Homo sapiens: one gene and its partners. The protein of the gene in region 3 purifies or fractionates together with the protein of the main gene of each other region. This does not show direct contact. Each region holds a gene or a part of one and is shown on either strand. Other genes may lie near its edges. The genes, in order: SLBP, ECT2L, GSTM3 and PLS1.

Region 1 (7,738 bases), on a different chromosome or scaffold from region 3:
CCTGGGTCTGCAGAAGGCTGAGGACTTTTGGTTAAAAGCAATCCTCATGAAAACACCCCACCCTGCTTGGCAGCCAGGGTACAAGTCCTGGGCACCTCCTCTTTGCCTCCCTCCTGCCCCTTTCCTGCTGGTGGGGGCAGATCCTGCACACACAGACACAGCGTCTGCCCCCGAGCCATTCCCTGGAGACCCTGGGTCTACCCCAGGTGGTCGTCATCTGGGCCATTTGCCTTACTTCTCTGGAGCATACCCACCCTCAGTTACGTGCCAGACCTGGACCGCATTCTCCTGCCCTGTCCTGGAGCTGGCCCCTGGCTGCCTGGAGGACCCTGGGTAGGTCCTGAGGGTGGGATGGAGAAGAGGGCACTGCTGTGGTGTGGGAGCAGTCCTGGGGCTTCCTGGTGGCTGTGACCAGTTGAGGGGCTGTTCCTGGGTGGGGTGGCAATGGGAGGACAGGTCAGAGCGCCCTCATTTGTGGGGCTGCCCCTCCGGGTTTCTCATCCTGTCCTTGGTGCCTTTTTCTGCCCAACAAGTCCAGGGAAGGCCGAGGTCTCAGACTCCTGGGTAGGGGTGGGGGTTTGAGTTGAGGACCAAAGTGCCATAGCGACATCCAGAACACAAGCCCACCAGGGGTCCAGCCCAGGCTACCCACTCCCCTAGGGTCTCCCAGGCTCAGAAGGGGATGCACGCCCCCTGTGGTCAAGCCTCTGGTGGGCGTCTTGCCCAGTTCCTGATGGTTCAAGGGGAGGGGGGATGTTGGCCAGGCCCCAGGGCACAGCCCTGACACAGGTGTGGCTACTGGAGGGGCCTTCATACCTGCGGCCCCAAAGCCCCTGGGCTTGGCTGTTTGAGGCAGAGGTGATGGACTCCGGGGGCCTGACACTTGGGATTTGGGAGGCTTCCTAGAGCGCTCAGCAGGTGAAGGCAGCAGGGGCCATGGCCGGGAGCCAGGCCTAGCTTTGAACTGAGTTTCAAGGGCTGCCAAAGAGGGGCAGTGGGTTGGGGTTGTTTTTACTACAAAATAAGTTACTTAGTTTTATAAAGACAAACCGATTGTAGCCAAATGACACCATATTTAATAAAATTTAGTCTGAAGTGATGTACTGTGTTTTGTGTTGCCCGATATTAAAACCAAACTTTTGTCATAGTTGGAGAATGGCCTGTGGGTATTGGAGAAGCCACCTTAGAGGTGGAATTGCGTGCGTGGCGTGCTTTGTTCAGAATAAGGAGGAAAAACCCATTGGTTGGGAGGCGGGTACAGTAGGAACCTTCCCCTCTGATTTCTGGTTAGGGACTCTGGGGTCTTGAGAACCCCTGACCCAGGGCCCTCTGCAGGAGCAGGGTGGGAGGGGCAGAGACACGTCCTGGGGGAAGTCACTGTGTGGTCGCCACTGCGGCTGCTTCCAGATGCAGGAACTGATGTGGGGACACATGGGTAGCCAAGGAGTGAGCAGCCTTTCCGGTTCACTTATGTTTGCAGCTGCGTCCTGTGAGGACACCAGGCTGTCTCTACTGACCTCACTGTGGGTCAGGGTGGCCCAGGAATTGCCAGCCGAGCACCTAGGGCAGCCAAGACAGCAGCCTGGGGTTCCCCACAGCACTGGGCCCTCAGGTGAGCACCCCAGCAACCGGACAGTGAGTGCTTGCTGCCTTTTCCCCATTCTGCTTCTTGACCCACAGGATGGTTCTTGGGGAAACAGTACACGTAATCCTATTGAAAGATATGACAGTGGGCTCTAGTTTCCTGCGCTACGAGTGTCTTCAGATTCTTTCCAGCCTGGTACTTTCACTGGCATTCTTTTGCATACACAGCCAGGCGCTGCTTTAACCAACAACAGAGATCCAGTGAGCATCTACTGAGGGGCTGTTATGGGCCCTGACTGTGCCAGGCCCTGTGACTCACAGGTACTTGGGACTCTTTGGCTCTGTACTGTTAACTTAGAGAAGAGTTTATTTCTTCTAAAAAGTTACAGCCTGACGAGAATCGCTTGAACCTGGATAGCAGAGATTGCAGTGAGCCGAGATCGCGTCACTACACTCCAGCCTGGGCGACAGAGTGAGACTGTCTCAAAATAAAAATAGTTAACAGCCTGCAAGATGGCCATCCCTCAGACTGGAAAGCACAGCCTCTGGCCAAGACCAGAGATGGGCACTTCAGAGGAGGAGGAGGAGGGGTTGGGGCAGGAGGTTTATGCTGAATGGGTTGGCTAAACATGCATATTCAGCAGGTGACAGGAGGAGCTATGAATATTCATGAAGGCAGTCCTGACGCATGCATCCTGAACAAACATACAATCCACATTCACTTTGGGGTGGAGACTTAACATTTAAAATGTATTATAATGAGGTTCTACACAGGCCAGAAGTGGTCCATCACTGTGGTCTCTTATCTGGACCAAGTTACTGAAATCAGTCTCTTGTCCAATGAAACTGTAGTTATGGCTGGTGGAATAGGGGCTGGGGGATCAGTCAGCATCCGGTGGAACTGCAAATTGGTTTTTATTGTTTTGAGACAGGGTCTTACTCTGTCGCCCAGGCTGGAGTGCAGTGGCGCCATCTGGGCTCACTGTAGCCTTGACCTCCCAGGTTCAAGGAATCCTCCCACTTCAGCTTCCGAGTAGCTGGGATCACAGGCACACACCACCATGGCCGGCTAATTTTTTTGATTTTTAGTAAAGATGAAGTCTTGCTATGTTGCCCAGGCTGGTCTCGAATTCCTGAGCTCAAGCGATCCTCCCACCTCAGCCTCCCAAAATGCTGGGATTACAGGTGTGAGCCACAGTGCCTAGCCTTTTTGTTTAAGTTTTTTGTAAAGATAGGGTCTCGCTGTTACCCAGGCTGGTCTTAAACTCTGGACCTGAAGCAATCCTTTTGGAGGCTTCAGCCTCCCAAAGTGTTGGGATCACAGGCATGAGCCATCATCTCGGCCACTGCACTGTTCCAATATTGCTTAGCTCAAGGCCAGTGCTTATTGAGCTACTAAGAGGAAAAGAAAAGCAGTGTGGCAGTAGGAATATAGTTTAAATGTAGGGTGTGTGACTTAACCCTTGCCTGGCATGACCTTAGGTCCTATTCATAATTTGGTATCTTATTGCCACTGGTGTCCCCTTGACCGCAAGGGGGTCCATTCAGTTGTTGGGGGCTTAGGATTTTAATTTTTTTTGAGACAGAGTTCTGCTCTTGTTGCCCAGGTTGGAGTACAGTGGTGCAATCTTAGCCCACTGCCTCCCGGGTTCAAACAATTCTCCTGCCTCAGCCACCCGAGTAGCTGGGATTACAAGCATGCGTCACCATGCCAGGCTAATTTTGTATTTTTAGTAGAGACAGGGTTTCTCCATGTTGGTCAGGCTAGTCTCGAACTCCCAACCTCAGATGATCCTCCCGCCTCGGCCTCCCAAAGTGTTGGAATTACAGGCATGAGCCACCGCGCCCTGCCAGGATTTTATTTTTAGTTTACAGTGTTGAGGGTTATGGGATGCCCAGGGCCTGGGGAGGAAGGGGACAGGATGTGTCCGTCCTAGTCTGAGGATGACTTTTTTGAGTTCAAAAGGGGGCGGTGGACGCACCAAGGCACAGTCCTGAGGGCAGCAGGTGCAAAAGTCCGGCCCTCCCAGAGGTGTAAGGCCTTAGAGGGATCCCAAGCATCCCTGGGGCTCAGCCTCCTGGACCTGACCCCACTGCCCACTCTTTTGGCTGGTTCCACTCTCCCCTGCATCCCTCACGTTGTCCCCAACAGGAAGCTGTGGGAACCTGTTCTCAGGTGTAGTGCACCCGTTGGGGTTCTAGTTGGCTGGATCCGCGGGGCCGTCAGCTGCAACTGTGACGGCGGGGAAGCGGGACGGGATGGTGCGGATCTACAGGACCTCGCCTCCAGGTGGAACCTACCTGCTGAGCCAGGGATTCTTCAGGATACAAACCCAGTCAACTCCAGGCAGAGGGTGGGAGCGTCATGCACCGGCGACACAGTGGAGGACGTCATGGACGGGCAGGGAGGCAGCGGCAACCGAAACTAGCGGCTCAGTCGGTGGCCGGTGTGCGGTCAACGGCCAGGGCAGTGGGACCGGAAAGACTCAGTGTAGTTGTCAACTGTTGCGACCTAAAAGGTTACTCCAAAACTTTAAGCGGCTCAAAACAATAGACGGCGCGTACGGGGCCTGCAGCGGCCACGGGACCGTGGGAAGCAGTCAGTACCCGCCACAGGCCGCGCCTTCCGGGTTCCGGGTTCCGGGTTCCCGCCAGGGAGGAGACACGCCCCCACCTGGGCAGGAACCAAGCAGAGCCGCGCTCCACCCAGGCCGGAACCAATGGGAGATGCGCCACGACCCAGGCCGAGAAACGTGCCGCTTACCCTTCCCCCACGACCTGCGCCGCGTCGCGCGCGGCCGAATCTCCCGCCAAAGCTGCCCCCGCCCGCCAAGGCGCGACCTATCAGCGTCGCAGAGGCCCGCGGCGGCCCGGCCGCCTCAATCCCGCGGGTGGGGGCAACCTTTTCCTCAGGCCTCTCCTCAGCCCACGGCGTCCATCTGGCTCCCGAGCCGAGGGCCGGGCAGTCGGGCTTCGCGGCTGCCCGCGGTCCCGAGGCCTCGCCCTAGCCCCAGTCGGCTCGCGAGGCGCGCACAGCTGAGTGGACCCCTGCGGCGTGGCCCGATGGTCTCGCCCGACCCGGCGCGCGCGGGAGGCCGAGGGGCGGGGCCCGGCGCCCACATAAAGGCGGTTGGGGGCGGGGCGCGCAGAGCTCGTGAGCGCCGGCGCGGGGACGCGGGTTTCTGCCTCAGGCCCTGCCCTGCTCTACTCTGCGCTCTCTGCCCGCGCCGCCGCCGCCTCAGCCTCGGCCCTGCGCTGCGCGCCCGGCCCGTGCTGCCATGGCCTGCCGCCCGCGAAGCCCGCCGAGGCATCAGAGCCGCTGCGACGGTGACGCCAGGTGAGGCCGGGCTGCGCGGCGGGCGAGGGAGCGCGTGCCCCGTGGGGCGGGGGTTGTGCGGGGCCGGGGTGTGGGAGGGCGGAGGTTGTAAGGCGGTCCCGAACCTCCCGTGCCCAGCCGACCGCGTCCCTCCCCGCAGCCCGCCGTCCCCCGCGCGATGGAGCCTGGGACGGAAGCGCAGAGCCGACGGCAGGCGCTGGAGGCCCGAAGACGCCGAGGAGGCAGAGCACCGCGGCGCCGAGCGCAGACCCGAGAGGTGGGCGCGGGACCCGGGGGTCGGGGCGCGGTGGGGCCCTTGACGAGGCCGCGGGCTCCAGGGACCTCGTCGCGCTCTCGCGGTGCCGGGATCGGTCAGGTCGGCACCCTGCGTCCTTTTATCTTGGTCTCCGCGCGGCCCGTGGACTGGGGCGGCCGCAGCAGGCCTGGGAGGCGCTGGAACACTCCGGAAGCCTCTTGCCAGGATGGGAGTCAGCTGAACCGGCGTCAGCCCGAGTTAGCCAGTTCGAGTCTGTGTTGTGCTCCCGGGAGAGGTCAGGGTCTCTGACGAGCTTCTCGTGAACACGTGGAAGTCAGGGACACCCGAGTCCCGAGGAGAAGTGAGTTGACAGGGCTTACCTGCTTGGCCATTTTCTGGGTTAGGCAGTGTGCAGGGAGGGTGGAGATGCGAGCGAAAGGAGGGCTTGATGGGGTGGGACGGCCGAGGAGGGTCTGGAGGAAATAAGCAGGGGTGCCAGTGGTCGTAGTGGCGGGGCTTTTCGGGGCTGTGGTTAGAGAAAACTTCTCGAGGGGCTTTGGGGTGGCTCGTCCCGCACTGGGGGCTTGTTGCTCCTGAGTTCCCTGAAAGGCGTGGTGACTTGGCCGAGATGGAGCAGTGAAGGTGGAGGGAAATGCGTGGTTCGGGATAGGCTTCTGAAGGCAGGACCTGTGAGACTTGCTGATGGGTTGGGGATGGGAGGCGTGAAAGGAAAAAAAAAAATCGGACCCAACTTCACTGTGCCAAAAGGAAAAAATTATGCTGAGCGCGGAATCATGCAAGAAACTACCTTTGCGTTACTTTTTTTTTTTTTTTTTTTTTTTTAAAGACAGGGTCTCACTCTGTCTCACAGGCTGGAGTGCGGTGACGCGATCTTGGCTCACTGCAGCCTCCCCCTCCCGGGTTCAAGTGATTCTCCTGCCTCAGCCTCCCCAGCAGCTAGGATTACAGGCGCATGCCACCGCGCCCGGCTAACTTTTTGTATTTGTAGTAGAGACAGGGTTTCACCATGTTGACCAGACTGGTGTCGAACTCCTGACCTCAAGTGATCCACCCACCTTGGCCACCCAAAGTGCTGGGATTACAGGTGTGAGCCACCGCGCCCGGCCACCTTTGTGTTTCTTTTTTTTTTTCTAAGCAGATACCTACAGATACAAGATTAAATATCTCCACGGGTGAACTCTGTTCACTTTAAGTGGCGACTTACTGAGCACACTAGGAATACATAATTGACTATTCCCCTACCTGCTCCTTTTCTCTTGGAACATGTAGATCTTTCTCCTTCAACCTACTTTTCTCTTTTAAATATTGAAGCCCTGACAGTCATCTCTGGAGAAAGGCACAGACCACAGACTCTTTCTGTAATTTCGTGTTCTTCTAGGTATGTCCTTAACATTAGCTAAATTCCTAAAGCAATTGAGACCTGTCTCAGACACTTTTTGGTTTACACAGGAAAGAGGCATCAAGAATGACTCAAGCCTTTAGGTCTGAACGCTGTTGATTGGGGCCATTTGCTAAGATAGAGAAGATGGGCTGGAGCAGCTAGGCATGGGAAGTTGTGAGGCTTGAGAAGCTGCTTAGAGAAGCAAAGGAGATGTCAAGAAAGGTAACGGAGTGTAGGAGTCTACATGGGAGGCATCTTCAGGCACAGTGAGTTACCAGGACATAGAGATGATATTTAGAGACTTGGGTCTAGGGGGCTGGGCGCAGTGGCTCCTGCCTGTAATCCCAGCACTTTGGGAGGCCAAGGCGGGCCCATCACCTGAGGTCAGGAGTTCGACACCAGCCTGACTAACATGGAGAAACCCCATTGTTGGGGACCAGCCTCGACACTTACCCGGAATGAGAAGAGACAGGTTAAGAGCTCATAAAGGTGGGAGCCAGGGGACCAGTTGGAAAATGGAGGCTGCAAAAGGCCCGGAGTTGCGGTCTCCACACTATTTATTGAGTACAATCACTTTAAGAAGTAGGCCGGGCGCGGTGGCTCATGCCTGTAATCCCAGCGCCTTGGCAAAAGGCGGGTGGATCACGAGGTCAGGAGATGGAGACCATCCTGGCTAACACGGTGAAAACCCGTCTCTACTAAAAATACAAAAAATTAGCCGGGCGTGGTAGCGGGCGCCTGTAGTCCCAGCTACTCAGGAGGCTGAGGCAGGAGAATGGTGTGAACCCGGGAGGCGGAGCTTGCGATGAGCCGAGATCGCCCCACTACACTCCAGCTGGGGCAATAGAGCGAGACTCCGTCTCAAAAAAAAAAAAAAAAGAAGTAGATGTTCAGGGTGAAACAGTGAAAGGGAGGCAGGCGTCATAGGCGTAATTATAGCGGTTTCAATGAATCTCCTTTGTGCTCAAACAGCATATCTAACTTATTGGAGAGTAGCTAGTGGGAGCGGGCTTAACTAGGAGCCTGCAAATCTGTCCACATTCCAGTGCTTTAAAGGAATGTCTTTCTTCTTGAACACTGTTTACAGATAAGAGAGCAGGTCTCGCTCTGAGCATGGGAACATGATGGCAATTAGGAGGCTTTCCTCCTCAGAGGCCTCTTGTGGCTTTTCACAACTTAC
Region 2 (6,887 bases), on a different chromosome or scaffold from region 3:
TGAGCAATGGACGATTCGTGAATCAGGCAGCTCCCAGAATCACAGCAGATTCAGAGAGACTCCCGGAGTGGCTTGTGGTCAGAACAAATTTATACACAAAAAAATGAAGTGATGTACAGAAATCAGAAATTAGGTACAGAAACAGCTGGATTGGTTACAGCTCAGCATTTGCCTTATTTGAACACAGTTTGAACACTCAGCAGTGTATGAGTGGTTGAAGTACGGCTCCTGGGATTGGCCAAGACTCAGCGATTATTACAGGCACATACTCCTAAGTTAGGTTTTCATTCTTGTCTACCTATTAAATTAGGTTGCAATTCACCCACAAGCATTCAAATATAAAAGTACAGAGTCCATCTTAGGCCATATTTAGTTTGCTTTAACAACTGCTACGGATGTATTTGGAAATACACTTCTATGTCGTGGCTGACTATCCTTTACAACTGGTATATTGATGAGGAACTCGGAAATTGACATTGGCACTTCCATGCTTAGTCAAAAGAAGGATGGGGCCTGTTGTGTGACAACCTGTGATATGGTAGAATAATAAGAAATATATATATTTGATCTTTGTCCCTGGTTCCTGACATACAGCTCCTAAAACTCTTGTAGATAGGGATGCTAGGAGAATCTTTTGTTCTAATATTTGGTTTTTGACCCCAGTTCCTGACACAGAGCTCCGAAATCCCTTGGAATTTCCTGGGTGATAGGAGCATCTTTTGTTCAGATGAAGTGAATCTTGGTGGACCCCTAGATAGCTTCAGGATGGGGGCTGGTTACCAGGGAAACCAACCATGTGATTATGCAGCTGGAACTTTCAGCTCCATCCTCTGACCTCTGGGGAAGAGAGAAGGGCTCAAGTTGAGTGATCACCAATGGCCAATGATGTCATCAATTGTGCCTATGAATGAATCCTCCATTAAAATCCCAAAGGACAAGATTCAGGGATCTTTGGGATAGCTGAACATGTGGAGGGGCTGAGAAGGCATGGAAGTTCCACACCCTTGCCCACATACCTTTCTCTGGGCCTCTCTTCTATCTGGCTATTCATCTGTCCTTTGTAATATCCTTTATAATAAATGGGCAAACATAAGTAAAGTGTTTCCTTGAATTCCGTGAGTCACTCTAGCAAATTAATCAAACCGGAGGAGGGGCTTGTGGGAATCCAGATTTGTAACTGGTTGGTTAATCATAAACAACATATAGTCACAACCTGGGACTTGTGATTGGCATTTGAAGTGGGGGGCAGTCTTTTGGGACTGAGCCCTGAACGTATGGGATCTGACACTAACTCCAGGTACACAGTGTCAGAACTGGGTTAAATTATAGGACGTAGAGTTGGTGGCCACTGGAGAATTGGTTGTCGGTGGGAAGAAATTCCCATACATTTTGGTGACAAGAGGTGAAGGGCTGTACTGAGTGTGTGAGAGTAAAGAGAAAAAAGTTTTTTGTTTTTTTTTTCCTCTCAGAACAACCAAAGCCAGATTAAAAGATGAAATGGCTGAACAATTGCCAGCCCATATAGAGAGCTAAATCCTCACTGGGATCACACAGAAGAGCAATGATGTCAATTAACTGTGTTTCCACAGGTTATCTGTTATACAGCTGGAGAAATGCAAGTTAGTCTGGTCCTTCTCCACTACAGTAGACAGAGTGGCTTAGAAATTAAAACACTGCTCCTCGGCAGAGGTATGTACCTACATGCGCGTACTTCTGCAATTCACACATGCAAATTGTGCAATGATTCCTTTATTTATCAAAAATTTACTTCCTTAAATATGCCTCCAAAAAGGTATCTGGTTCTAAAGATCGCACAAAAGAACGGGAGTAGAAGAAAAGTAAGTGTGATTGGTGAAAAAACAGAAATGAAAGACAATTCCAGTTGAGTTAAATGTCCCACATTTAGGGCATGTAAAACTACATGCCAGTATATAATTTTTATTAAGTACACACTAAGCAATGGATAATGAAAATAATGGCGTGTTTTGAGGAAACCTGGGCTATTGATCTTACAGGCGGTGATAGAAAATACCATACTTGTGCTGGTATTTTCAAATGGTGGATGTGCTCACTGATTTATAAGTTTAAAGCTATAAAACTAAAGCTGTAACAAACAAGATGCAACTGTTGCTATAAAACTTCCAAGTCCTTAACCCTTCTTCCTCCCACTGAAATAAGTGTTTGTAGAGCATGATTTTTGAGGTTTCTGTGGAGCACAAATGTCAGTTCCTGCAGAACAGACTTTAACAGGCTTGGATACAATTGCATGGGTTGCAGTGAACTTTAACACCAATGATGTCAGGATATTGTGTTCTGATACATATGCAAAGTTTATTAATAAGCACAGCATCGGTATTTTTAAATCGATATTTTAAAGTACCACTGTTTTATTTGTCCTGCTCATCAAATCTTAGCATATTAACTCTTAGAGCTATCCTTATAACCAAGACCTATATTCACAGTAGATTTTTTGTATTCCTCCCTCATTCCCCCAACCCAGCCCCCACCCTACTCCCTACATTTTTGGACCCCATAGGAGGAAAGAGGGAGAGAACTGTCAGAAGGAAGAAGGCAGTTGGTGTGAACCTATGAAAATCAGCGTTTTCCAAAGTGTTCAAGAACTTTACTTCGATCCCAAATCAGTTCTCTGGAGGAGGTAAGAGTTTACTTGGCATGGCCCGATGCAAACCCTACCCTACGCGTGGATTTTGTTTCTCCCCAGAGCCTCTTCAGAATCTTGGTTAATTCCAGAGCTGCTAAGGGACTCCAGGGTCGCGGAGGGAGGGCCCTGCGCCCCTCAGCGCTGCTTAGGGTCTTCCTGGGCGACTGCACTGGGAAACTAAGCCGGCCCAGGCGATGTGCCCCGGGCGGCCCCAAGAAAAAGACTAGCGGCTCAGAAGCCACGGGCTTTACCTCTAGGAAGTGGCTATGAGGCCCGGTACAGTGGCGGCTGTCTCCTCTTGGAACCGCGCAGTGAAAATCGAGTGCGCCAACTCGGGCCGCAGCTCCGGAGAGGGGTGGGGCAGGGACAGGGTCATCTCCATAGGGATCCAACAACACGGAGCCACCACCCCGCCCCACAGGCCCGCAGCCCCTCCCGCCGCCGCGCCCGGACGGCCAACCTGCATCTCCCCAGCTGCAGTGAGCAAAGCCGCCCGCGCCGTGCGAGCCACCGCCCTTCTCTTGAGGCCAGCTAGGCTCGGGTCCCGGCTCCTTTCCCTGCCTCCAGGGAGCTTGCGGTGGGAGAAAGCTTCCGTGGGGTCCCGTGGGTCGCGGCACGTCTCGGAAGCCCTGCGAGGTGCCCAGCAGAGGTGCCAGACCCAAGGCCGTGGGACCCCAAGAAGAGACTTGGACACTGAAGCCAACGTTTGCTTGATCTCAAACAAAGCCAGCGATGTTAATTAAGGCTGTGTGATGAGGAAAGTGGAGTTTCTTATTTTTTGTCACATTCATCTTCAGCAGATCCTCAGAAAATGTTAATATTTACTGCAGAATTACCAATTTCAGCATTATACAGGAGGTACAAAAACAAAACCAAAAAACCCTTCTTCATTAGTTTCAGGTCAAAATGTCTTTTAACTATTTATTGTGAAGCCTGTTTTTTTCTTTTGTATGTAATAGTTATGGCCATGAAAAGATGCTCACAGTACATTACTTACAAAAAGCAGCTTAGAAAACCAGCAGAATGGTACGATCTATTTTTTTTGCAACGTGTGTAAGAAATCTGGGAGTATGTACACAAATAGGTTAAATGGTTTGCTCTGGTAGTTTTAAAAATCATCTGTAATTCAATTTTTCCTACAACGAATAAGCAACATCTATGTAATAAACCATAAGTTTCATTCTAGTAAAGTTTCATATGAGAAATGTGATCTTGCTATGCTGCCTAGGCTGGAGTGCAGTGGCTATTCACAGGCCTGGTCATTGTGCACTATATTTTTATTTTTATTTCAAATATCTTTTTCTTTTTCATCTGTATGCCAGTAAAATCATCATTGTACACTATAGCCTAGAACTCCTGGGCTCAAGCAATCCTCCCGCCTCAGCCTCCAGAGTAGCTAAAAGTACTGGTGCCTGTCACCAAACCAGGCCTTAAATTTTATTCTAATCCAGGCACTGCATTTTTTCCTGTTTCCTTGAACATGTGTTTAAGGAGTGTGAAAGGATACAAATTAGATAAGCTAATATTTCGCTACCTGGGACCCATTTAGGGCCCTGTGACACAAAGGGCGAATGAACCAAGTGAATAAACAAGGTCAATCCACTGCTCTGTCACAACCCGCAGGAACCAGCTTTTTGCTTTACTCTATCTCAGGACCAATCCAAGAAAAACATGTCACATGACAAAGTGTCCTTTCGCCCTGTCAGACCCTAGAGTACGACTTTTTCCCCCTTAAATCCCTATTCTCACAACCCAAATGAAGTTTCCTCCATGATGCTGTAATTTTTAAAAGGGGTATTAAAAAGACCAATTTACTGATCAAAATACTTTGAATTCAGAAAGCCAAAAATTATTAAAATCAAGATTTGAAAAATATTCAGTAAGTCCCTCTCCTCCCCTCCCCCAATTAGGTGCTTATTTCTGTGGCCTGGAAACAAGGAGACAGAAGCATGAGCATCTTCTGCAACACAAAGGTAACTGAGTTATAAATAAGCAAAATGTGTTCTATCCATACCATGGCATATGATCAGCCAAAACAAGAAATGAAGTACATGCAATAACATGGATGAAGCTTCAATCCTTGAAAACATCATGCTAAGTAAACGAAACCAGTCACAAAAGGCCACGTATTGTATGATTCCATTTATATAAAATGTCTAGAATAGAAAATCCAGAGAGCTGGAAAGGAGGTTAGTGGCTGCCAAAGGCTGAGGGGATTAGGGGACAAGGAGTGACTGTTAATGGGATTCTTTTTAGTGTGATGAAAATGTTCTAGAATTAGATCACGGTGATGGGTATATAACTCTATGAATCTACTAACAATCACTGAATTGTACACTTTAAAGGGGTACATTTTATGACATAAATTATTGTTTCAATAAAGCTGTTTTTAAAGGGTGATGAAATTAATGTTTACTGAGCATTACTGGTATCAGCTATTGTGCTAGGCATCTCTCTTTTTTTTTTTTTTTTTGAGACAGAGTCTTGCTCTGTCGCCTAGGCTAGAGTGCAGTGGCACAATTTCGGCTCACTGCAACCTCTCTGCCTCCTGAGTTCAAGCAATTCCTGTGTCTCAGCCTCCCTGATAGTTGGGATTACAGGAGCCCGCCACCACGTCCGGCTAATTTGTGTGTATGTGTTTTTAGTGGAGATGGGGTTTCACCATGTTGGCCGGTCTGGGTATTGAACCCCTGACCTCAAGTGATCCACCTGCCTCAGCCTCCCAAAGTGCTGGGATTATAGGCGTGAGCTACCGTGCCCGGCTTGTGCTAAGCATCCTATACGCGCTTTTTCACTTACTCCCCATACAACAACTACCAACTTGGTTACTGACCTCATTTTCTAGATTTAAAAAAAAAAAAAAGAAAAAAGAAAAAAATCCAACCTGAGTAAACGTGCATGAACACAAAGTTAAGGGGGCAGAACGGCGATTCAAATTAAGGTGTAAGTAACTTTAAAGCTCACATTCTTTCATCACACCAGTATTTAAATGTACACAAGGTACAGAATTTGCAAGGAGTTCAAGAACCTCAAATTTTATAAACACAGTTTACTTTTAAGGATTGAACCCTTGTATTTCCCAGATTGAAGACTATATGGGTTTCTTCAAAACAGACAACAGAGATTAATTTAAAACAATTACTTTATTAAAAAATAGCAAATCTCACAAATACTTATTTAATTTCTTATCACTGGCCATTGGAAAACACACCAGCATGTGTACTGATTGTCTAACATAAACTGAAGCTGGGCTTGCCACAAGACGCCTGTGCATCAACAGCTTGCGATCAACACTGGAATAAGTTTGGTGAGCTCAGGAAAGAGAAATCCCTCCGCCCTGTCAAGAACATCAGCACAATGCATTTCAAGTATAATCCCATAAGGCAACAATATGAAGCACAGCAGCACAATCTCTGCGTCACATTTCCTGATGAAGCCTTCAACAAGGCCTAGGCCTCCAGTTATGGTGAATTACAGCGAGTCACATTTACTAAAAGCAGTAAGTGAAAACGATCATTGAACTTGCACTTTAATTACTTTAATTCCTTGTTGTGGAAGATGATTCTGCTACTGGATTTGGCTGGAAAAGTAAAGACTGCTGCTTCTCTTCAAATCACAAGAAAGCAAACTACATTTCATTTTAGCTAGCAGAAGTATTTGGAACATCTTGTGCATCTGCCAAATGGAGTTTTTGTCTGAATTAATCAGTTAAGAAGATTTTCATTCTATAAGGGGTACTTCTTTTACATTTCTGAAAATTACATTCAGGAGCAAAGAGAAAGCGGTATTTAAAAAAGAGATATGTTCAAAGGAAAAGCTCTTGTGTTGCTACTGAGACACTCAGATGTGGTAAGACAACTTTTAAATGTAGTAAATTATACTCTTGTCTAGAATTTGAAGACTTTTTTTTTTTTAAATTTTAGAGATAAGGACTCACTTTGTTTCCCTGGCTGGAATGCAGTAATACGATCATACTTCACTGTAGCCTTGAACTCCTGGGCTCAAGCAATCCTCCCACCTCAGCCTCCCAAAGGCATGTGCCAACATACCTGGCTAATTTTTCTATTCTTTGTTAGAGATGGGGGAGGAGTCTGGCTATGTTGCCCAGGCTGGTCTTGAACTCCTGGCCTCAAGCAACCTTCCTGCCTCGGCCTCCCAAAGTGCTGGGATTACAGGTGCGAGCCACCACACCTGGCCCAGAGTTATTTTTAATGTGTCAATAATC
Region 3 (7,890 bases):
AAATACCCCTTTTTCTGATACTCCATTCAGCAGATGTGTGCTAAGGAAACTCACGTGGTCAGAGCTGTAACAGAGCCTTATCAGTTGTGTGCGGAAATCCATTACTTGGTTCTCTATGATGTCCACTCGAATCTTTTCTTCTTCAGTCTCACCACCTGTAGGCCAAATGACAACAAATCACCCTTGGCATCATCCACTCTCAGACAAACTACCAGCCTGGGGTCCCTCACCAGCCCTACCCCACTCACACATGTTGTGCTTGCGAGCGATGTAGCGCAAGATGGCATTGCTCTGGGTGATCTTGTTCTTCCCATCCAGGAGGTAGGGCAGCTGAAAGGAAAAGGACAGGACAAATGAACAACCTGCCTCTCTCTTGATTCCCTACCTCTCTCTCCAGGGGAAAAGAACACTTGCAGGGCAGTGAACAAGAGTGAGAAGATGCTGTGTTAGGAGAAAAAAGAAAATAAGTAGAAGGTAGCAACTGGGTCCACAAGATTCTAGACAGGGGTTCTTAAATTGGTGTGTGTATGTGTGAGTGTATGTGCATGCCATGGACCTTTTCTCAGAATAAAGTTGTTAAATGCATGAAGCAAAATAGATAATTTACACAATCAAAAAATATTTTTAAAAATTCAAATAAGAGTAACATGTGCCTATTAGTGCATTAAATAGCAAGCAGATGTAATGACTAACATAATCTCAAAGTAAATAACATTATATGTATATATTTACTTACATGTATATAAATATCACTTAAAATATCTGCAACGCATGTTATAGAATATGAAACTACCTGATTTCAGGCTGGGCACAGTGGCTCATGCCTGTAATCCCAACACTTTGGAAGGCCGAGGTGGGAGGACTGTTTGAGCCCAGAAGTTCAGGATCAGCCTGGGTAACATGGCAAAACCCCGTCTCTTACAAAAATACAAAAATTAGCTGGGCATAGTGGTGTGTGCCTGTAGTCCCAGCTCCTTGGGAGGCTGAGGTGGGAGGACTGCTTGAGCCTGGGAGGTTGAGGCTGCAGTGAGCTGTGATTGCGCCACTGCACTCCAGCCTGAGCGACAGAGTGAGACACTGTCTCAAAACAAAAGAACAAGAAACACACAAAAAAGAAAATACCTGATTTCTACTAGTGACAAAGTGACAGACATGGCTAATAACCAATGTCACTTATTGTCTCTCTTCACAATAAAAGGAAATAACTTTTGCTAGTGGTTAATGGGAATGAAAATACATATCCATCCAGTTCAAGGACCCCTGAATTCTATTTATTCTATCCGGGTTAAGATCCCCTATTTTGCATCCTTCTGTACCAGGCAGGAGAGAGGCAAGGATGGATATACTTGAAGGCTTTCCCTTCTGCCCGCCACCTCTACTAAAGCCACTTACATTAGGAAAGTCCAGGTCTAGCTTGAATTTCACATCCAGCCATTGGCTTCGATCATAGTCAGGAGCTGTAAGAGACGGAATTAAGTGGGACCCAACCTCCTTAATACCCCACCTGACAAGAGCAAAAGATCTAAAGAAATGACTTGGTCCCAATACCTCAAATTCCCAGGCCCCAAAAGCATAACCATTGAGCCTCTGAGCCCTATTTGGTTAAGCATTAAGACGGGTTTGGGCTATGTTAAAAAGAGAACCCCCAGTTCCAGATAAAGGATGTGTCTCTATTCACCCAGATTGGGGCAAACGTCCCACCCGGCCTTGGCGCGACGCCACCACCCTCTGGGCGTAAGAAGACCAGGGCAGGTGGAGGGCCAGCTTGGCTGCACGGGCACGCGGAGCGGCATTACCTTCCCCGCACGTGTACCGTTTCTCCTCATAAGAGGTATCCGTGAACTCCAGGAGCAGGCGGATGGCGTGCGCCAGCTGGGGAAGACAGCGGTTCAGCGACTGCGCAGCTCCCACCCATTCCCAACCCCCGCCCGCTAACGTTCCCCGGCCCGGGGCTGCCGAGTCCCTGCGTCCTGCCGGGGCGGTGGTTAAGCGGCCCCTAGGCCCGGCTCCGGCGTGGTCTCCTCCGCCCCTCCCCACAGGGCCCGCGATCCCAGAGGCTGGGCAGGGGTCGACATCCGTGGCTCGGCAGCTCGAAAAGGCTCCCGCGTAGAGCTGCTCCTGCTGGAGATCGCGGACCCAGAGACCCGCCCTCTCCGCGTCAGTCTCTTTGACCGAGCGGCTCTACCGTTGAGACGGCACTCACCCCACGAATATCCCAGTACCCGAGAACCATAGACGACTCGCACGACATGGTGACGGGCTTCCGAGCCTTCGAGGACTAGGGAAACTGTGAGCGGGAGGGGCTTTATACCCGACATAAGGGGGCGGGGCCCACGCGCGGGCGCCCTGACTCCGCCTCCGCCCCGTTCTCCGTCCCTTGCCTCCGCGGCTCCACAGGGCCGTGCGCAGGCGCGACTAATGCCGGCGTTGGGGTTCAGGGCCTGGCGACCCCGAGGCGGGACCCGGGCAGGAGTGCTGCAGGAGAGCAAAGGACCCGAGGTTGAGGCTCCTCCCTTCCCCGCGGGTGGGAGCCAGACTTCATTCATTAATGGTGCCAGTGAAGACGCGAAAAGCACCACTAGCCAGGCAGTGGGGACCCTAGTTACCCAGGGAGAGCGAGATTCGCGCCGTTTTTACCGAGCCAGCCGGGGCTGGATGAAGGATAGGAAGACTGGGGCAAGGCCGGAGAGTCAGACCAGCCTCTGACCACACAGAGCAGAAGATTCCCCACAGACCAAGCTCCCCTCTCTGTCAGTCAAGGACCTCTGCAACCTGACCCCAACGTGCTTTTCCAGTCCTGTCTCTCCCTCAGCCCGTCACAACTTCATAAGCCAGCCCAACCCAACAATACTTGCTGTTCCTTCTACACACACTTGCATTTCCCACCTTGGAGTGTTTGCTCTGTGATCCTCCTACCTGCATCCTAATTTCCACAGCCTATCCTTCCTCAGCAGCCTTGCTGAAATGTCTGCCTATTCCTTGAAGCCTTCTCAGAACCAACCTCTATCCTGGCCAGAAGAGGTCTCTTATCTTGAATGTTTCCTACCTTTGTTTTATGGGCTTAAGTAATTTATGGATTCCTTATTATAATTTCCTCCTCCAATCCCTCCCACTTCCTAATGCTCACGCATTTAGGGAAATTAATCTTGCCTCTTTGTGTAGGATGGACTGGAGGAGGAAAGGTACTACCATTTTTCATTCACTCATTCATCTGTCCAACAATGTTTAACATGCCTGTTATGGACAGGCACTGTTTTAGGTGCTGGGGATACAGAACTGAACTCAACAGACAAAATCCCTGCCCTCAGGAAGTTTACATTCTAATGGGGAAGAAATAAACTAATATATAGTAAATAGCTAGTAAGTCAGGTGGTGATACACATCCTATGGAGAGAAATAAAATCGAGAAGAGAGATAGGGGGTCTCAGGGTGGGAACTGGGGGAGTCCCAGTAGGAAGGGGATTTATGTTTTTAAAGGTTATGTTCATAGAAGGCCTCATGGAGAAGTTAATCTTTAAACAAAGACCTGAAGGAGGTGAGAGATCAAGCCACTCTGCTGTGGGGGCCACCATGGGCTGATATAAATATAAAACAGAATAATTGCTGTTCCTTTTACAAGCATGTTTGCTCTGCTCCTGCCTGCACCCTAATGTCCATGGCCTAGCCTTCCTCAAGTAGCCGTGCTCAAATGCTCACTTCTTCCTTGAAGCCTTCTCAGAATCACCCTCTATCCTGGCCAGAAGAGTTCTCTCCCTCTCTTATCTCGAATCACTTCCTACCTGCAGGAGGCAGAGAGAACTCCAGGAAAAGGGAAACAGCAAGTACAGGAGTGATCACTCTGTGTTTGAAACCAGAGACTAGATGAGATCACCATGGGAGCACGAGTAGCAGAGATGAGGTCTAAGGGTTTGAGGTGCTCTGGCATATCAACATGTAAAGGTTAGGGAAAAATGAGAGCAAACCAGCAAAGGAGTCTGAAAAGGAGTGGCCAGGGAGGTAGGAGGAAAACAAAAGGTCCCAGAAGCCATGTGAAGATGTTTAAAGGGAGAAGTGATCAACTATGTCAAGTGTGGCTGATCAAGTAAGATGAAGATGGAGAATCAATGGTTGAATTTAGGAAAGTAGGGGTTTTGACCTTGACAGAGCAAGAGACCTGCCCGAGGCCCCTATAGTCATGGGAAGAACTAAGCTTCTGAATTTCGGCAGGGCCCATGCAAATGAAAAGGGGCACAGATTTGCAACAGGGTCAACTCGGGAGACATAGGATTCTAGTTGAATGTGGAGGAGTGACAGAGGAAGGAGTCCGGAGCTGCTCTGAGGGTTCTGGCCAGGCCTCTGCAGCACAGCTCTCAGGGCAGTCTGAGAGCCTAGATCCCCTAGCTCAGGTGTGGGAAATCACATTTGCCCATCAGTTCAACTGAAGCAAGGTTGGGACTTTTTAAAAGGGCATTTTGCTAAACAGAAGAAAGGAAGAGTACAAACCACATGGACAGGTGAAATTTATAATGCCTGTGTCTCTCCTCCCAAGAAAGCAAAAGGCCAGTCACAAATTCACCTGAGGTATAAGATTAACATTTATTGAGCACCTATCATATGCCAGGCAATATCTAAGTGTTTACGTATGTTAGCTAATTTATTCCAATTTAAGCTTCACAACAACTTTAGGAAGTAGGTGTTATGCCCATTTTCTTTTCTTTTTCTTTTTTTTTTTTTGCAGTTTTTGCATTACTTTCTTTTTTTTAAATTTTATTATTATTACACTTTAAGTTTCAGGGTATATGTGCACAATGTGCAGGTTTGTTACATATGTATACATGTGCCATGTTGGTGTGCTGCACCCATTAACTCCTCATTTAACACTAGGTATATCTCCTAATGCTATCCCTCCCCCCTCCCCCCACCCCACAACAGTCCCTGGAGTGTGATGTTCCCCTTCCTGTGTCCATGTGTTCTCATTGTTCAGTTCCCACCTATGAGTGAGAACATGCGGTGTTTGGTTTTTTGTCCTTGCGATAGTTTGCTGAGAATGATGGTTTCCAGTTTCATCCATGTCCCTACAAAGGACATGAACTCATCATTTTTTATGGCTGGATAGTATTCCATGGTGTATATGTGCCATGTTTTCTTAATCCAGTCTATCGTTGTTGGACATTTGGGTTGGTTCCAAGTCTTTGCTATTGTGAATAGTGCCGCAATAAACATACGTGTGCATGTGTCTTTATAGCAGCATGATTTATAATCCTTTGGGTATATACCCAGTAATGGGATGGCTGGGTCAAATGGTATTTCTAGTTCTAGATCCCTGAGGAATCGCCACACTGACTTCCACAATGTTGAACTAGTTTACAGTCCCACCAAAAGTGTAAAAGTGTTCCTATTTCTCCACATCCTCTCCAGCACCTCGTTTCCTGACTTTTTAATGATTGCCATTCTAACTGGTGTGAGATGGTAACTCATTGTGGTTTTGATTTGCATTTCTCTGATGGCCAGTGATGGTGAGCATTTTTTCATGTGTTTTTTGGCTGCATAAATGTCTTCTTTTGAGAAGTGTCTGTTCATATCCTTTGCCCACTTTTTGATGGGGTTGTTTGTTTTTTTCTTGTAAATTTGTTTGAGTTCATTGTAGATTCTGGATATTAGCCCTTTGTCAGATGAGTAGGTTGTGAAAATTTTCTCCCATTTTGTAGGTTGCGTGTTCACTCTGATGGTAGTTTCTTTTGCTGTGGAGAAGCTCTTTAGTTTAATTAGATCCCATTTGTCAATTTTGGCTTTTGTTGCCATTGCTTTTGGTGTTTTAGACATGAAGTCTTTGCCCATGCCTATGTCCAGAATGGTATTGCCTAGGTTTTCTTCTAGGGTTTTTATGGTTTTAGGTCTAACATGTAAGTCTTTAATCCATCTTGAATTAATTTTTGTATAAGGTGTAAGGAAGGGATCCAGTTTCAGCTTTCTACATATGGCTAGCCAGTTTTCCCAGTACCATTTATTAAATAGGGAATCCTTTCCCCATTGCTTGTTTTTGTCAGGTTTGTCAAAGATCAGATGGTTGTACATATGTGGCATTATTTCTGAGGGCTCTGTTCTGTTCCATTGATCTATATCTCTGTTTTGGTACCAGTACCATGCTGCTTTGGTTACTGTAGCCTTGTAGTATAGTTTGAAGTCAGGTAGCATGATGCCTCTGGCGTTGTTCTTTTGGCTTAGGATTGACTTGGCAATGCGGGCTCTTTTTTGGTTCCATATGAACTTTAAAGTAGTTTTTTCCAATTCTGTGAAGAAAGTCATTGGTAGCTTGATGGGGATGGCATTGAATCTGTAAATTACCTTGGGCAGTATGGCCATTTTCATGATATTGATTCTTCCTACCCATGAGCATGGAATGTTCTTCCATTTGTTTGTATCCTCTTTTATTTCCTTGAGCAGTGGTTTGTAGTTCTCCTTGAAGAGGTCCTTCACATCCCTTGTAAGTTGGATTCCTAGGTATTTTATTCTCTTTGAAGCAATTGTGAATGGGAGTTCACTCATGATTTGGCTCTCTGTTTGTCTGTTATTGGTGTATAAGAATGCTTGTGATTTTTGTACATTGATGTTGTATCCTGAGACTTTGCTGAAGTTGCTTATCAGCTTAAGGAGATTTTGGGCTGAGACAATGGGGTTTTCTAGATATACAATCATGTCATCTGCAAACAGGGACAATTTGACTTCCTCTTTTCCTAATTGAATACCCTTCATTTCCTTCTCCTGCCTAATTGCCCTGGCCAGAACTTCCAACACTATGTTGAATAGGAGCGGTGAGAGAGGGCATCCCTGTCTTGTGCCAGTTTTCAAAGGGAATGCTTCCAGTTTTTGCCCATTCAGTATGATATTGGCTGTGGGTTTGTCATAGATAGCTCTTATTATTTTGAGATACGTCCCATGAATACCTAATTTATTGAGAGTTTTTAGCATGAAGTGTTGTTGAATTTTGTTAGAGGCTGTTTCTGCATCTATTGAGATAATCATTTGGTTTTTGTCTTTGGTTCTGTTTATATGCTGGGTTACATTTATTGATTTGCGAATGTTGAACCAACCTTGCATCCCAGGGATGAAGCCCACTTGATCATGGTGGATAAGCTTTTTGATGTGCTGCTGGATTCTGTTTGCCAGTATTTTATTGAGGATTTTTGCATCAATGTTCATCAAGGATATTGGTCTAAAATTCTCTTTTTTGGTTGTGTCTCTGCCCGGCTTTGGTATCAGGATGATGCTGGCCTCATAAAATGAGTTAGGGAGGATTCCCTCTTTTTCTATTGATTGGAATAGTTTCAGAAGGAATGGTGCCAGCTCCTCCTTGTACCTCTGGTAGAATTCGGCTGTGAATGCATCTGGTCCTGGACTTTTTTTGACTGGTAAGCTATTGATCGTTGCCACAATTTCAGAGCCTGTCATTGGTCTATTCAGAGATTCAACTTCTTCCTGGTTTAGTCTTGGGAGGGTGTATGTGTCGAGGAATTTATCCATTTCTTCTAGATTTTCTAGTTTATTTGCGTAGAGGTGTTTGTAGTATTCTCTGATGGTAGTTTGTATTTCTGTGGGATCAGTGGTGATATCCCCTTTATCATTTTTTATTGCGTCTATTTGATTCTTCTCTCTTTTCTTCTTTATTAGTCTTGCTAGCGGTCTATCAATTTTGTTGATCTTTTAAAAAAAACCAGCTCCTGGATTCATTAATTTTTTGAAGGGTTTTTTGTGTCTCTATTTCCTTCAGTTCTGCTCTGATTTTAGTTATTTCTTGCCTTCTGCTAGCTTTTGAATGTGTTTGCTCTTGCTTTTCTAGTTCTTTTAATTGTGATGTTAGGGTGTCAATTTTGGATCTTTCCTGCTTTCTCTTGTGGGCATTTAGTGCTATAA
Region 4 (7,839 bases), on a different chromosome or scaffold from region 3:
GAGCCGAGATTGCGCCACTGCACTCCAGCCTGGGCGACAGAGCGAGACTCCATCTCAAAAAAAAAAAAAAAAAAAAAAAAGAATATCTGAGTCCCTCCTCTATACAATTAGGGGATAGTCTGGATAAAGCGCTACCATATAGCTCTAAGATCCTAAATGCCCACCCTCCCCATGGCAAAATGCACTTTTTATTTATTTATTTATTTATTTATTTATTTATTTATTCATTCATTCATGTAATAACTATTGAGTGTCTGATACTGCAAAGCAATGTGCCAGGTATTGTGAAGGGTTAAAGGTCATCCTTCAGAGAGCTTATCATCTAGAACGGGAAATAAGACAATTACATCACTAACTAAGAAACAGAGACAATGTCACAATTCGAGGTACTTTTTTTTTTTTTCAGATGCAGTCTTGCACTGTCGCCCATGCTGGAGTGCAGTGGCACAATCTTGGCTCACTGCAAGCTCCGCCTCCCGGGTTCATGCGATTCTCCTGCCTCAGCCTCCCAAGTAGCTGGGACTACAGGCGCCCACCACCATGCCCCCCCAGCTAATTTTTTGTATTTTTAGTAGAGATGGGGTTTCACCGTGTTAGCCAGGATGGTCTCAATCTCCTGACCTTGTGATCCACCCACCTCGGCCTCCCAAAGTGCTGGGATTACAGGCGTGAGCCACCACACCCAGCCAATTGGAGGTACTTTTAAGATAAAAAGAACATTATAAACCCATTACTAACACCCCAACCCTGAAATTCATTTTCAACATGTCTTTCCTTCTCTGCATTTAGTCTTTCACCACATGCTTCTTCCTTTACATTTCTTAATTCTGTGCCCTCTTTTCTCCACTTTGAGTCACAGGCTTAATCCAGGGCCTGGACCAACTGACCCGTGTTTTTACGCCTGTCTCCTGTAATCCCCCTAACTAATCTGTGATCTGTTATCAAAATATGAGGAATCAGAAATGGACTTGGCTGCTGTCTTGATACAGCTCTAACATGGCCTTCCCCATATTATAGAACACACATGAAATCTCTTTACAAAACTATACATACTGCACTTCCTTCCCCCACTCCCTCCCACAAACAGGGGCTAAGAATATACTTTGTGCTTAGTGCTGGGTGGGATGTTTAAGTCATAGGCTTTAACCTCCAAGAGCTTACACAACCTGCCAACTTCCTGGTCGGGAAGTTGGGAGGTGCTAAAATACTCAGGATACTATATACAATGGGGATACTAACAGCACAAACAACAGTAGTAAGTGCTATAGGGTTCAGAAGAGGGAGAGCTACTTCATGCTAAGGCAATCAAGGAAGGCTTCCAAAAAGAGGTCACACCTGAGCTACACCTTGCAGCATGAGCAGGACTTCAATACGGAAAGAGGGAGGCAAACAGGCATTTTGGGCAAAGGGCCCAGGTGACTGAGGGAAGGAAGGAGGGCGTTTTCAGGACCAGCAAATTGTTAGGTGGGGCTTCAGTGAAAGGGCACTTTTTGAAAGGAATTTATGAGGTACTAGGAAGCTTAGTAAGAGAAACAACTAATTTTCTGCTTAAGCCAGACTTCATGGTATAAGTAGAAGAGAAAAAGGAAGTTTAATAATGGAGGTAAAGAAGAGTATCTGCAGGGAGTGGTAAAAAGACCCCAGAAAATGAGAAAACCTGGATCCCAGGCCTAGCTTTGCCAATGAGGGGCTTGGGTGGCCACAGCAAGTCATCTAACCTCGCTGGTCTCAGTTTTCTCATTTGTAAACTGAAGCAGCTGAACTGGCTGACCTCAAAGGTCTCTACAGCCAAAACTAGACCAGCTGTATATTATTTCTGCCATTAAAACATTTATCATGGGAGGAATGAAGGGGGGCAGGATACCTGTATTCCCTTTCCATATAGGTTTCTCTTCCTGAACTTAAAATTTCCTCTTCCTAAACTTACTACCTCTCTCTCTATATATATATATGCCTCCACATTACACATTAACACTTTACTATAGAATTTCATTACATAATTCAACTTAAAGGAAAGCTGATTACAAAGGTGGTGGGGGGTGTAAAAGTACTTGCTTCAAGTTCAGTGTGTGCCCCCTGTCCTGAAATTTTGCTTCTGGCTCACAGGTTCTTCAAGAAATTTATGCAGCACAGCTGAAGCCTCATACAAGTGTATCCAACACCGTGGCTGGAGGGAAAGATATCACGGTATAAGCCATAAAATGTGACATAGTAAGTAAGTAAAGGAGGAAAAGTGAGAATTCTGTTACTCATCTAAACGACCGCTTCCTTTTAATAGTACCAAATGAAGACCGAAATACAGTAATAATTGAAAAGTTAGGGAGAAATCTTAAATTTTTTTAAGTCTCCACTTGAAAATGCAGCTGAAACACGGAAAGTTTTTTGGCAGTGAAATTCGCTGAAAACTGACATTTTTATGCCGCATCCAGAGGTCCCTATGCTCCAGGAAAGGTACCAAAAACAGCACGGATGGGATTTCACTACAGCCCTATTGATCCTATGCACCAAAAGGCCAAAGGCAAATAAACCAGTCCCAGAATTAAAACAAAACAGGCTGGTTCAGAAAGCCTCACCGGCAGCCACCCAAAGTTGAAAGAAGAAAACTTAATGAAATACCTTATTTCATTGCATAGAATCACAATTCAGTTAACAGGCTTATTGTTTAAGCAGTGTAAATACGCGATTTAACACCTGCGGGCACTGCCTGCCGGGACTGGGCAGAAGCGTGCCCAGAGGACGGCGGGCGCCACACTGCACAGCCAGGAGACGAGACGCGAGCGAGGGGACCCGGAGATACTGCCCCCGAGCCGCCGCGCGCCCCCAAAGGAGTAACGCTTCGCTTTCCATCTGTCTGTCCAGCCTTCCTTTTGGGCCCTATCCCCACCCCCGCGTACCTGCCGCCACCGCTGTCCTGCCTTCGAGAGGGCAGCTCCCACTGGAGATCCAAGTACCTGCAGGTCCACTCTGCGGCTACCTCTCCGCGCCCGCGTAGCCGCTGCGCTCGCGCCACTGCGCATGCTCGGCCGGCACCCGGGCCCGCAAACTCTGAATCCACTTGCCGCGTTTTGCCTGCGGCTCCCAGGGGAGGGAAAGGGAAGCCCAGAACCTGGGTTTAGGCTAAGGGTGAAAGAGGAGTTGCAGGCGCTGGGAGCGTGGATGGGGAGAGGTGGACGGGCGCTGCGGCAACGTTATCTCTACCGCCCACAGTTACCCAAGTCTAAAGATGACCACCTACACCCTGGGAATGAGTTTAGCACAGCAGTTCTCAAACTTGAGCGTGGATCAGAATCACCTGGAGAGCTTTTTAAATCACAGATCCCAAACCCGGAAACTGAGTTTCCGATTCAGTTAGGTCTGGAGCGTAGCGCGACAGTTCCCATTTCTAACATGTTCTCAGCGAAAACTGGTGCTACTAGTCTGGGTACCACACTTTGGGACCTGCTGGTCAAAAGGAAAGGTATACGTTATTAAAGGAAGACTTGTTTCTCTCCCCTACTCTTTTTTTTTCCGTTTGTTTCACGGATTGCTTCCTTTTCCTTTAACAGCCACACCTGATTAAAATAAATATATAACTAAAGCCCACACTCAAACAAAAGTGGGATATTTTCTCTCGCATGTGAGTCAGGTAAATGGAATGCTGCCTCAAGAGTTCTCACATACTTTGCCTGAAGCATAATCCGTAGTTGTGGTCTGTCCAACTCAGTCCAGAGAACAGAACAAGGTTTTGCTGCCCCTTTAACTCAAAGTCCCACGTGCCCCTTCTGCGCCTAACACAATATCCAATACAGAATAGGCACCCAACCAACCCTGAGATGGTAACAATAGAAAAAATAAAGGGGGGAAGTTGAAATTATTTTAAGAACTCAAACAAATTGGACGAGCAATGAACTATGAAAGTAGGTGGGCCATGGAGAGGGAAGATAAGGAATTTTTCCCACCTGCCACCTAGAGAATCAGGTGAATTTAGTATTCTTATCTGATTTTTCCCACCTGCCACCTAGAGAATCTGGTAAATTTAGTATCCTTATCTGATACTTATTTATCTAGATATGCAAGGGGAGTTAAGTAAGTTCTCACAAAATAAAGCAAAATATTTCCTTAAAAGGTAAACATACATCTAACATATGACCCAGCCATTTCATTCCTAGATGTTATCCAAGAGAAATTAAAACATATGCTTACACAAAAACTTGAACAGGAATGCTCATAGCAGCTGTTTTTCACAAAAGCCCCAAACCAGAAGGAACCCAACTGTCCAACAACATGTAAATGAAAAAACAAATTGTGGTATATTTATACAATGCAATACTACTCAACAATAAAAAAGAAGAAATACTCTCACACAGGACTCAATATGGATAACTCTCAAAATCGGTATGCTGAGTTGAAGAAGCTAGAGACAAAACATATTGTATAATCCCACTTATATGAAGTACAAACTAACCTATAATGACAAAACCCAGATTAGTAATTGCCTGGAGCCAGGAGTGGAGGGAAGGATAAACTGCAAATGAGCAGAAAAAATATTTTTGGAGGGGGACGATGGAAATTTTCTCTGTTTTGATGGTAGTGACAAGTTCACAGGTGTATACAACTGTCATCGCTAAGTTGTACACTTTAAACATGAAAAATGTGTGTAAATTATTCACCAATAAGTTTGATAAGAGAACACTTTTTCATGAAATACTCTTATGATCTGTTTTTTTTTCGTGGTAATATTGACCAGGGCAGGTTCATGAGGAAACGTAGATTCTAAATATGGTATAACCTGATTTGGGAAAGGTAAAATAAAAAGTCATCCTCTGTAAATGAAGCTAAAAATAATGCATATAAAATGTCTGTAACAACCCTCTGTAAAAGCAGCCAACCCTAAGATATGATTTGTAAATATACCATTGATAAAACCGTTTCCCAAAATTGTTTCCAAGTGTAAAATAATAACTAGAGTATATCATTAGAAATGCACAACCAGGGCCCAGTGCAGTAGCTCACGCCTGTAATCCCAGCACGTTGGCAGGCCAAAGTGGGCAGATCACCTAAGGTCAGGAGTTCAAGACCAGCCTGAGCAACATGATGAAACCCCGTCTCTTCTAAAAATACAAAAATTAGCCGGTCGTGGTGGCAAGCGCCTGTAATCCCAGCTACTCAGGTGGTTGAGGCAGGAGAATCTCTTGAACCCAGGAGGCAGAGGTTGCAGTGAGCCAAGATCAAGCCACTACACTCTAACCTGGGCGACAGAGCGAGACTCTGTCTCAGAAAAAAAAAAAAAAGAAATGCACAACCAGCGTGTAATAATTATATAAAGAAAATTGTTACCTGCTTAACTGATTGTATCACTAGCAATGACAAATAAGGTATTCAAACTGTGTTTCCAGGAGCTCTGGGTTTCATGGAGAGAAAAATACGCAGGGCTCTGGATCAAGGACCCTAACCCAGACTGCTTACATATTGTAGTATCTTGTGAAATCTTATTTGATAAAAGGGTTTCACTGATAATTTTGTTTTTTTGAGACTGAGTCTCGCTCTGTTGCCCCGGCTGGAGTTCAGTGGCACGACCTCAGCTCACTGCAACCTCCACCTCCCAGGTTCAAGAGATGCTCCTACCTCAGCCTCCTGAGTAGCTGGGATTACAGGTGCACACCACCACACCTAGTTAATTTTTTTAATTTTAGTAGAGACAGAGTTTCTCCATGTTGGCCAGTCTGGTCTCGAACTCCTGACCTCAGGTGATCCACCCTCCTCGGCCTCTCACAGTGCTGAGATTATAGGTGTGAGCCACCGCACCTGGCCATCATTGATAATTAAAAGAGCAATCGTTTGAAAACAATTGAAGTAATAGTATCAGGTCGTAAGAATTCACAAAGAGATGGTATATTTGGTGGACCTGTTTTTTGGCTTGCAGAGCAATGAGAAAAAATACATACAAAGATTTTTAAACTAGTTAAAAATGTACACTGTAGTTATAGTAACCATATGTTCCAATTTTTGTAGAATAGTCTTCATTTAAATATTTGTTTATTACATAAATTATATCTAATCATGTATTCCAACTGTTGGTTGAAAAAAATAACATCTTTTAAGCTGGGGGTTGTTTTTCAAAATAATATAAAAAATCACGAACTAAAAATAAAACGAGGATAAAGCAGGGCATGGTGACACACACGTAATGCCAGCATTTTGGGAGGCCAAGGTGGAAAGGGCACTTGAGCTCAGGAGTTCAAGACCAGCCTAGACAACGTGGAAAAAACCCATCTCTAAAAAAAAAACAAAACCAAAATTAGCCAGGTGTGGTGGCATGTGCCTGTGGTTCCAGCTTCTCTGGAGTTTGAGATGGGAGGATCTCTTGAGTCCAGGAGTCTGAGGCTACAGTGAGCCATGTTCACTACACTGGACTCCAGCCTGGGCAACAGAGCAAGACCCTATCCGAAAAAAAAAAATTGAGCTGCTACTGGGTAGTCACCATTTTAAACACTTCACCGTATTTACTCATTGAATATCCATGCCAACCCTATGAAATTATCCTCAATTTACAGATGAGAAAACTGAAGTACAAAATGTTATTTTTCCCATGATAACACAACTAAAGACTAAATAATTACAACTACATTTTTAAAATATATTTTATATAAAGACAATCTTTGCTAATTTCACAGTTTCCAAGGATCCATCTGAATTATTAATTTATTTTTCCAGGCTCATTGATACTAAGAGGGCTACCAAAAAAGCAGAGCTCTAGTGATTACTGCCATCATCATCTTCATTATCATTGCTAATATTTATTCCATGTCTTCTATGTACTAGCTACTGTGCCAAGAAGTTCACATTGTTTATTTCATTTAATATTCATGAAGACAAAAGTGCAGATTCAATAATAATAGGTAACAAAGACAGCGAATGGCGGAACCAGGATTCCAACTCAAGAGTGAATGGCGGGCCGGGCGCGGTGGCTTATCCCAGCACTTTGGGAGGCCGAGACAGGTGGATCACTTGAGGTCAGGAGTTCAAGAACAGCCTGGCCAACATGGTGAAACCTCATCTCTACCAAAAAATACAAAAATTAGCTGGGTGTGGTGGCATGTGCCTGTAGTCCCAGCTACTTGAGAGACTGAGGCAGAAGAATTGCTTGATGCAGGGAGGCAGAGGTTGCAGTGAGCTGAGATCACGTCACTGCACTTCAGCCTGGGTGACGGAGTGAGACCTTGCCTCAAAAAAAAAAAAAAAAAAAAAGCTAATGGAAGAACCAGGATTCAACTCCAGTTTTCTACTATTTACAATACTGGTCCCTGTATTCTAAGGGAAAAATATTGGCATTCTGGATTATAACCGAGTCTCTGTGAATGTGGCTAATGTTAGTTCATTCCCCAGAGCCTGATGGTTTCTAACATGCTTATAACCACAACACCCCACTGCAACCCAGCCCTGATCAGCATCCCGAAATCAGCTACTATATAGGCACCAATTTTACAATCAATTTTAGAAAAGTAGGTGCATTCTGAATGATACCAGCAAGTGTGATGTGACCATATTTATTTCATTTGGCTGGTTTTTTTTTTCCAGAACAAAGAGAGTAGAGAAAAAAACATATGTGAGAAAGACTAAGATTCAATATTCAGTCTGTGGCCATACCACCCTGAACACTCTCGATCTCGTGTGATCTCGGAAGCCAAGCAGGGTCAGACCTGGTTAGTACTTGGATGGGAGATTCAGTATTCATTTCAACTCTGAATTTATGATAAATCATTTAGAAGAGAAAACAATAATATGAGAAATAAGTCCAAAAAAACAGGGCAAAACTTCTCTCTCTCTCATGCATACACACACACACACACACACACACAC

What was found.
Region 1: the proteins of GSTM3 (region 3) and SLBP purify together in Homo sapiens (affinity purification with mass spectrometry; 3 studies listed by BioGRID and IntAct, with this or other methods). This does not show direct contact.
Region 2: the proteins of GSTM3 (region 3) and ECT2L purify together in Homo sapiens (affinity purification with mass spectrometry; 3 studies listed by BioGRID and IntAct, with this or other methods). This does not show direct contact.
Region 4: the proteins of GSTM3 (region 3) and PLS1 purify together in Homo sapiens (affinity purification with mass spectrometry; 3 studies listed by BioGRID and IntAct, with this or other methods). This does not show direct contact.

The regions. Positions count from the first base shown.
Region 1 is NC_000004.12:1,709,313-1,717,050, reverse strand, and holds the start of SLBP (histone RNA hairpin-binding protein), read left to right. Parts: upstream 1-4,731; 5' UTR 4,732-4,862; coding exon 4,863-4,921; intron 4,922-5,060; coding exon 5,061-5,177; intron 5,178-7,738. UniProt on the Homo sapiens protein: RNA-binding protein involved in the histone pre-mRNA processing.
Region 2 is NC_000006.12:138,792,219-138,799,105, reverse strand, and holds the start of ECT2L (epithelial cell-transforming sequence 2 oncogene-like), read right to left. Parts: upstream 3,020-6,887; 5' UTR 2,914-3,019; intron 1-2,913. Other genes in the region: CCDC28A (coiled-coil domain-containing protein 28A), read right to left, coding at 6,303-6,357.
Region 3 is NC_000001.11:109,738,037-109,745,926, forward strand, and holds the start of GSTM3 (glutathione S-transferase Mu 3), read right to left. Parts: upstream 3,003-7,890; 5' UTR 2,917-3,002; intron 2,476-2,916; 5' UTR 2,252-2,475; coding exon 2,204-2,251; intron 1,873-2,203; coding exon 1,797-1,872; intron 1,458-1,796; coding exon 1,393-1,457; intron 331-1,392; coding exon 249-330; intron 156-248; coding exon 55-155; intron 1-54. UniProt on the Homo sapiens protein: Conjugation of reduced glutathione to a wide number of exogenous and endogenous hydrophobic electrophiles. May govern uptake and detoxification of both endogenous compounds and xenobiotics at the testis and brain blood barriers.
Region 4 is NC_000003.12:142,591,565-142,599,403, reverse strand, and holds the start of PLS1 (plastin-1), read right to left. Parts: upstream 3,012-7,839; 5' UTR 2,895-3,011; exon of another isoform or gene 2,056-2,894; intron 1-2,055. UniProt on the Homo sapiens protein: Actin-bundling protein. In the inner ear, it is required for stereocilia formation. Mediates liquid packing of actin filaments that is necessary for stereocilia to grow to their proper dimensions.